2 linked regions of the Homo sapiens genome follow. The protein of the gene in region 1 purifies or fractionates together with the protein of each later gene. This does not show direct contact. Each region holds a gene or a part of one and is shown on either strand. Other genes may lie near its edges.

Evidence for each region. Proteins that work in one complex are often made in the same cells at the same time.
Region 2: the proteins of EIF2AK3 (region 1) and NXPH3 purify together in Homo sapiens (co-immunoprecipitation; one large-scale study listed by IntAct). This does not show direct contact.

What each region holds. Positions count from the first base shown.
Region 1 is NC_000002.12:88,624,665-88,628,806, reverse strand, and holds the start of EIF2AK3 (eukaryotic translation initiation factor 2-alpha kinase 3 isoform 1 precursor), read left to right. Parts: upstream 1-1,342; 5' UTR 1,343-1,532; coding exon 1,533-1,840; intron 1,841-3,877; exon of another isoform or gene 3,878-4,061; intron 4,062-4,142. UniProt on the Homo sapiens protein: Metabolic-stress sensing protein kinase that phosphorylates the alpha subunit of eukaryotic translation initiation factor 2 (EIF2S1/eIF-2-alpha) in response to various stress, such as unfolded protein response (UPR).
Region 2 is NC_000017.11:49,578,871-49,581,598, forward strand, and holds part of NXPH3 (neurexophilin-3 precursor), read left to right. Parts: coding exon 1-430; 3' UTR 431-2,728. UniProt on the Homo sapiens protein: May be signaling molecules that resemble neuropeptides. Ligand for alpha-neurexins.

The DNA of each region.
Region 1 (4,142 bases):
TAATGCCCGTAAATTGCAGCACTTTGGGAGGCTGAGGCGGGAGGATGGCTTGAGGCCAGGAATTTGAGACCAACCTGGGCAACACAGAAACCCCATCTTTACAAAACAAAATTAAAAATTGGCCTGGCATGGTGGCACGCATCTGTAGTCCCAGCTACTCCGGAAGCTGAGGAAGGAAGATCGCTTGAACGCAGGAATTCAAGGTTATAGAGAACTATGGTCAAGCCACTGCACTCCAGCCTGGGCAAAAGAGCAAGACCCTCTCTCTAAAAAAAAAATTTTTTTTAATGTTCACTGGTTTTGATGCGGGTAATAGCCTCCCGGCCAGTCTCCTCCTCGTTGATGCTGTCACTGCTGAAGATGCATTTTCTTATCACTTCACTCATCTGCTCAAAAATCTTCAGGAAGTCTTGACTTGCAGCATTAAAAGTTCAAATGCCTTGGCTGAACATTCCAGTCTTCTCCACTCTGCCCTTTTGCAATTTCATCACTGTCTTTGGTGAGGTACAAAGCGTGCCAGGTCAGAGTCAGAAGACATGAATTAAAGTCATGATTCTGTGACCAACCAGCTACGTGATCTTAGGCTAACTACGTCAGTGCACTGGGCCGGGGCTCCTTCCCGTTCCTAAGGAGGCGGGAGGCGTGTCGGGCAGACTGGATTGTCACAGGTCACTGCCATCTCTAACAAGCGGACTTCTGAGCCCCGTTGCGGCCACAAGTAGGACCATCTCCTGCATCCTCCTTACCCTTCTACTTCTAGGGACCACACGGCTTCTGTGGCCACTTCTTGCTGCTTCGCTTTTGCCTTCCTAAGTAGACTAGGCTTTAGAAGAGCTACAATACCAGCTCCTTTAAGGTCGACCTCCTCCCGGTCACAAGGCACTTGCCTCCCACTCTTCACTTGGGACAGTCCTCTTCACAGTCAGAATCCGCCACGTAGTAAGTGCCGCTTCCAACCAATCAAGAGGCAGTTAGCGCAGACCTTTGAGGGACATCCACTTCCACCAATGATCTTCAAGTCTTCTCCAGCGCCTCGCTTTGTGGGGCGAGGCCAACCACCGCGATGGCCAATCTGTTGTAGGAAAGGTATTCCGGGAACTGATGAGCGCACCAATCAGGTAAAAAGACGTCGGGGAAGGGCATTTCTCATTGGTAATTGCGTCCGGAAGAGGGACGGGCCTCGAACGACGAAATTACGATTTGATTGGTAGGTGCGATGTTGACCACCAGGGAAAGTCCACCTTCCCCAACAAGGCCAGCCTGGGAACATGGAGTGGCAGCGGCCGCAGCCAATGAGAGAGCAAACGCGCGGAAAGTTTGCTCAATGGGCGATGTCCGAGATAGGCTGTCACTCAGGTGGCAGCGGCAGAGGCCGGGCTGAGACGTGGCCAGGGGAACACGGCTGGCTGTCCAGGCCGTCGGGGCGGCAGTAGGGTCCCTAGCACGTCCTTGCCTTCTTGGGAGCTCCAAGCGGCGGGAGAGGCAGGCGTCAGTGGCTGCGCCTCCATGCCTGCGCGCGGGGCGGGACGCTGATGGAGCGCGCCATCAGCCCGGGGCTGCTGGTACGGGCGCTGCTGCTGCTGCTGCTGCTGCTGGGGCTCGCGGCAAGGACGGTGGCCGCGGGGCGCGCCCGTGGCCTCCCAGCGCCGACGGCGGAGGCGGCGTTCGGCCTCGGGGCGGCCGCTGCTCCCACCTCAGCGACGCGAGTACCGGCGGCGGGCGCCGTGGCTGCGGCCGAGGTGACTGTGGAGGACGCTGAGGCGCTGCCGGCAGCCGCGGGAGAGCAGGAGCCTCGGGGTCCGGAACCAGACGATGAGACAGAGTTGCGACCGCGCGGCAGGTGAGGGGCTGCCGACCCGGGGGAGGCAACTTGTTTACGCGCGCGAGCCGCGGAGGATGCGGTGTAGGGGGGCGGAGATCCGGGACCCGGGCGGGCGTCTTCCCTCGGCTGCGGAGGGCAGCTGGCGACCTGGGGACGAGCGCGGGGCCACGACGCCCTCCCATCCCCCGGCCAGCGACCTGCCTGGGCTCGGCTCCCGAGGGCCTGGTGCTGGCCGACGGGTCAGAGCAGCATCCTCGCAGGTGCGGGAGAATGGAATTCCAGGGTTGCAAAGAAACGCCACTTCCCCTCTTTCATTGTTTTCGGGCATTGATTCTCTTCCAAGGAACCTTTCCCTCTTTTTCCTTACGCACATCACCTCCTGTCTGTGCTGGCGTGACAGCTGTTTTGAGAAAGGACTTTAGCAAAAGACGTCTGCATTTTCTTTCAAACACAACTCTGTAGTGCCCCCGGACAAGGATTGAGATCAGTGTCTAATTGAGATCTGCGGAACACCTGCATCCGAATCACCTGGGGTTGCTGGTGAAATCTACAGTTTTCTAGGCCCTACCCCAGTTTTACTGAATGAGACATTCCCTGGGTAAGAGCCTGGCATCTGCGTGTTTAACAAGCACGCCGGATAATTCTTGCACGCTAAAGTTTAAGAGCTATAGTCAGATTCTTGAATATTGGTTCTTGAACCTAAGAGCCATGGTTAGGTTCTTGAATAAGGGGTTTACTGTATAAACATTTAATATAGGGTTTTCTTTGAGTTTCTCAGCATTCAAAAAATGTTACTTCAAGGTGATTGTTTTAAAGCACTTTTCAAAGTCTAGACACAATGTAAGGCATGTTAACAGTAAATTTGGGGGACAGCCAATCTTATCACACCCGTGGAGAAAGTGATGTCCCATTTTATAAATGGAGTGCTAAAGGGAGCATTAAGTAAATTAAACTAGGGAAGGCTGGGCTCTGGATTGGAACATATTTTAGACTTATAGTCATTACTAGATCGTAACAAGTTAGATTTAATTTTAAATTAATATTAGAACTTTGATCTATATATCTGGAGACTACTATAAATAGGATAAGTACTAAAATTCTCTAGGCACCATTTGAATATATAAACATTTGTAAATATATATATATAAAACAAAGTTTTCTTAGGTTTGCTAATGAGTCAGTTTTCCTGGAAGAGTGTTTTTGTTTATCATAAATTTCTGAAGCTCCTGCTCAAAATGAATTACATGAAGTAGAGTTGAGACGTTTTCTTTTTCTTAGAATTCAAATCCACTTCAACAGGTACTTACTGGTTAACAAGAGCCCAAGGATGCCCTGGGTGGCAGAGGTTAGGCAGGTAGTTCCTGCCTTCCAGGAGAGTGTGCAGTCTAACAGTACGGATGAAACGAGAAGACCTATAACAACATTACAGACTAGAAACAGTGCCAGTGTCAGGGATGTCCCAAGGTTTTTGTGGTGTTCTACTAGGTGAGGTATGGGAGTGAGGGTAGGTAAGAAGATAAGAGAAGGTTGTGGCAGAATGAGTTGGTTCCTGAAAAATGGGTAAAATTGTAATGGAAAGTCACTGGACTTGAGGAAACAGCAAGAGGCACAGAGGCCGGAGATTATGTTTGGAAAACATTTTGTCTCTGTGTATGTCTGTGTGTGTGTGTGTGTGTGTGTGTGTGTGTGTGTGTGTGTGTACGTAAGCGATATAGACATGCACATATGTATGCTAGGCAGGGAGAAGTAGATGAGGATAGAAAAAATAGGTTAGAGCCGACTGTATATGCATATAGTCTGATGCTAATAGCATCATTGTCACTTGGGAGTATGTTAAAACTCCGGAGTGGGGCACCACCCCACACTCCCTGAATGAGAGTATCTGCATTTTAACAAGATCACCGTGTGATTCACATGCACGTTAAAGTTTGAGAAATGTTGGGTAGAGTATCCTGAGTGCCAGGCTTGATCAAAATTACACCTAAGGAATGTTTCTCTAGCAATAGTGTGTACTGAAAACTTGAGTTAAGAATACCAAAAGGAGAGTGTTATAGCAGTTCAGATGAGAGGTTTAGTGTAAAGTGGTATAGGACAGAGGGGACAGAGTTGAGATATTTGATGCAAAATCTAGGTTCCTGGCAAGTGAATGCATTCTTCCTTTCTTGGTACCCTTGTCCAGAGATTGAGACTGCGTGGCCAGAAGTTGACAAAAGAGGTTTAAGGGAGCAGGGAAGAAAAGGTAAGGGGTTTGGTGTTGGACATGTGACTCGGAGGTGCAGGCAGGACATCCAGAGGGAGGTAGGCGGGTGGAAATGAGTGA
Region 2 (2,728 bases), on another chromosome or scaffold:
GACGGTGGCCCTGAACCTGCTCGTCACAGGGAAGATTGTGGACCATGGCAATGGGACCTTCAGCGTCCACTTCCAACACAATGCCACAGGCCAGGGAAACATCTCCATCAGCCTCGTGCCCCCCAGTAAAGCTGTAGAGTTCCACCAGGAACAGCAGATCTTCATCGAAGCCAAGGCCTCCAAAATCTTCAACTGCCGGATGGAGTGGGAGAAGGTAGAACGGGGCCGCCGGACCTCGCTTTGCACCCACGACCCAGCCAAGATCTGCTCCCGAGACCACGCTCAGAGCTCAGCCACCTGGAGCTGCTCCCAGCCCTTCAAAGTCGTCTGTGTCTACATCGCCTTCTACAGCACGGACTATCGGCTGGTCCAGAAGGTGTGCCCAGATTACAACTACCATAGTGATACCCCCTACTACCCATCTGGGTGACCCGGGGCAGGCCACAGAGGCCAGGCCAGGGCTGGAAGGACAGGCCTGCCCATGCAGGAGACCATCTGGACACCGGGCAGGGAAGGGGTTGGGCCTCAGGCAGGGAGGGGGGTGGAGACGAGGAGATGCCAAGTGGGGCCAGGGCCAAGTCTCAAGTGGCAGAGAAAGGGTCCCAAGTGCTGGTCCCAACCTGAAGCTGTGGAGTGACTAGATCACAGGAGCACTGGAGGAGGAGTGGGCTCTCTGTGCAGCCTCACAGGGCTTTGCCACGGAGCCACAGAGAGATGCTGGGTCCCCGAGGCCTGTGGGCAGGCCGATCAGTGTGGCCCCAGATCAAGTCATGGGAGGAAGCTAAGCCCTTGGTTCTTGCCATCCTGAGGAAAGATAGCAACAGGGAGGGGGAGATTTCATCAGTGTGGACAGCCTGTCAACTTAGGATGGATGGCTGAGAGGGCTTCCTAGGAGCCAGTCAGCAGGGTGGGGTGGGGCCAGAGGAGCTCTCCAGCCCTGCCTAGTGGGCGCCCTCAGCCCCTTGTCGTGTGCTGAGCATGGCATGAGGCTGAAGTGGCAACCCTGGGGTCTTTGATGTCTTGACAGATTGACCATCTGTCTCCAGCCAGGCCACCCCTTTCCAAAATTCCCTCTTCTGCCAGTACTCCCCCTGTACCACCCATTGCTGATGGCACACCCATCCTTAAGCTAAGACAGGACGATTGTGGTCCTCCCACACTAAGGCCACAGCCCATCCGCGTGCTGTGTGTCCCTCTTCCACCCCAACCCCTGCTGGCTCCTCTGGGAGCATCCATGTCCCGGAGAGGGGTCCCTCAACAGTCAGCCTCACCTGTCAGACCGGGGTTCTCCCGGATCTGGATGGCGCCGCCCTCTCAGCAGCGGGCACGGGTGGGGCGGGGCCGGGCCGCAGAGCATGTGCTGGATCTGTTCTGTGTGTCTGTCTGTGGGTGGGGGGAGGGGAGGGAAGTCTTGTGAAACCGCTGATTGCTGACTTTTGTGTGAAGAATCGTGTTCTTGGAGCAGGAAATAAAGCTTGCCCCGGGGCACTGGAGTCAGAGTTGTCCAAGGAAAGGGCCTCAGGCATCCCTTGGTCCAGGAAGAATTTCTCTGATGGCCGCAGGACATTTGCTTGAGACCCAAGTGGCAGGGATCCAACCGCCCTTGGCGCTGATGTTTGCTGAGGGCTCAGGGCTTCCCTCTCCAGCCCCGGTTCCAAGCTGTCTGATCCCCCACGAGGAAACTTGAGCAAACACCCTGGGCTCGGTGCTGGAGGAGGGCGTAGCATCTTCAAGAACAGCTCAGGGAGGGAGAGCTAGCAGGTAGAATGGGCCAATGAGGGTGTTCCTTGGTGTCCTCCCTGAACTGCCATCTGCAGACCCAGCAGGGTCCTAGCCCCGTCATTTTGCTGCGTGGCCTTGGCCATGTCCATTCTCCTCTCTGGCTTTCTTTCTTTGTTTCTTCCTCTATGACATGAAGGGCTTGCCCAGACCAGGGGTTCTCAAACGCGGATCACCCAGAGGGTTTGTTAACACACAGATTTCTGGGTCCTACCCACATTTCTAATTCAGCAGGCCTGGGTGGGGCCTAAGAATTAGAATTTCTAACGAGTGCCCAGGTCTATGCTGATGCTGCTGCTCCAGGGCCCATGCTGGGAGACCCACTCAAAGGACCTTGAAGTTCATCTCTGGCTATGGCTCCGCAGGAGGGGGAGACACCTCGGATGTGATTTCCCAGCTGTAATTTCCATCTGCTTCTCCTGGGGAAGGGGCCTTTCAGAGAATCGGGGCTATTGTATTGGATTTTCAATCTGACCACATGCCAGTGAAGGAACAGGCTGGAGTGGGGTGTGGACACAGGGCCTGCGTCAGTCACTCCCCTCCTGCAGCTAGTAAGAGGCCTCAGAATGGCCAGCTGCCAGTGGCACCTTGTCTGGGAGTTAGTTGGGCCCTTTGGGACTCTGTGAAGGGAAGACACTACCAAGGTCACAGTGCCTTCTGGAGGTCATTCTAAGTCGGCTCTCTTGGGAGGGCAGCACTCAGGGCCCTTTGGGCCCTCTTGAGGAGAGGAGAGTCCTGGCAGTAAGGTAAGATGGGCTTGCCACCCCCCACCTTTCGCCCCTGCCCACCAGCGCTCCGCGCAAACTGGTCCCCTCATACTGCAGCGCAGAGTTGGGTGGGGCTGAGAAGCCATCTGGTTACAGCCCACCTTGTAGGAAATGACCCAGCTTGTTTCCCCCACATCATGCTTCCAGGGGCCGTCTCTCCTGAGTGGAGATGTGAGACACAC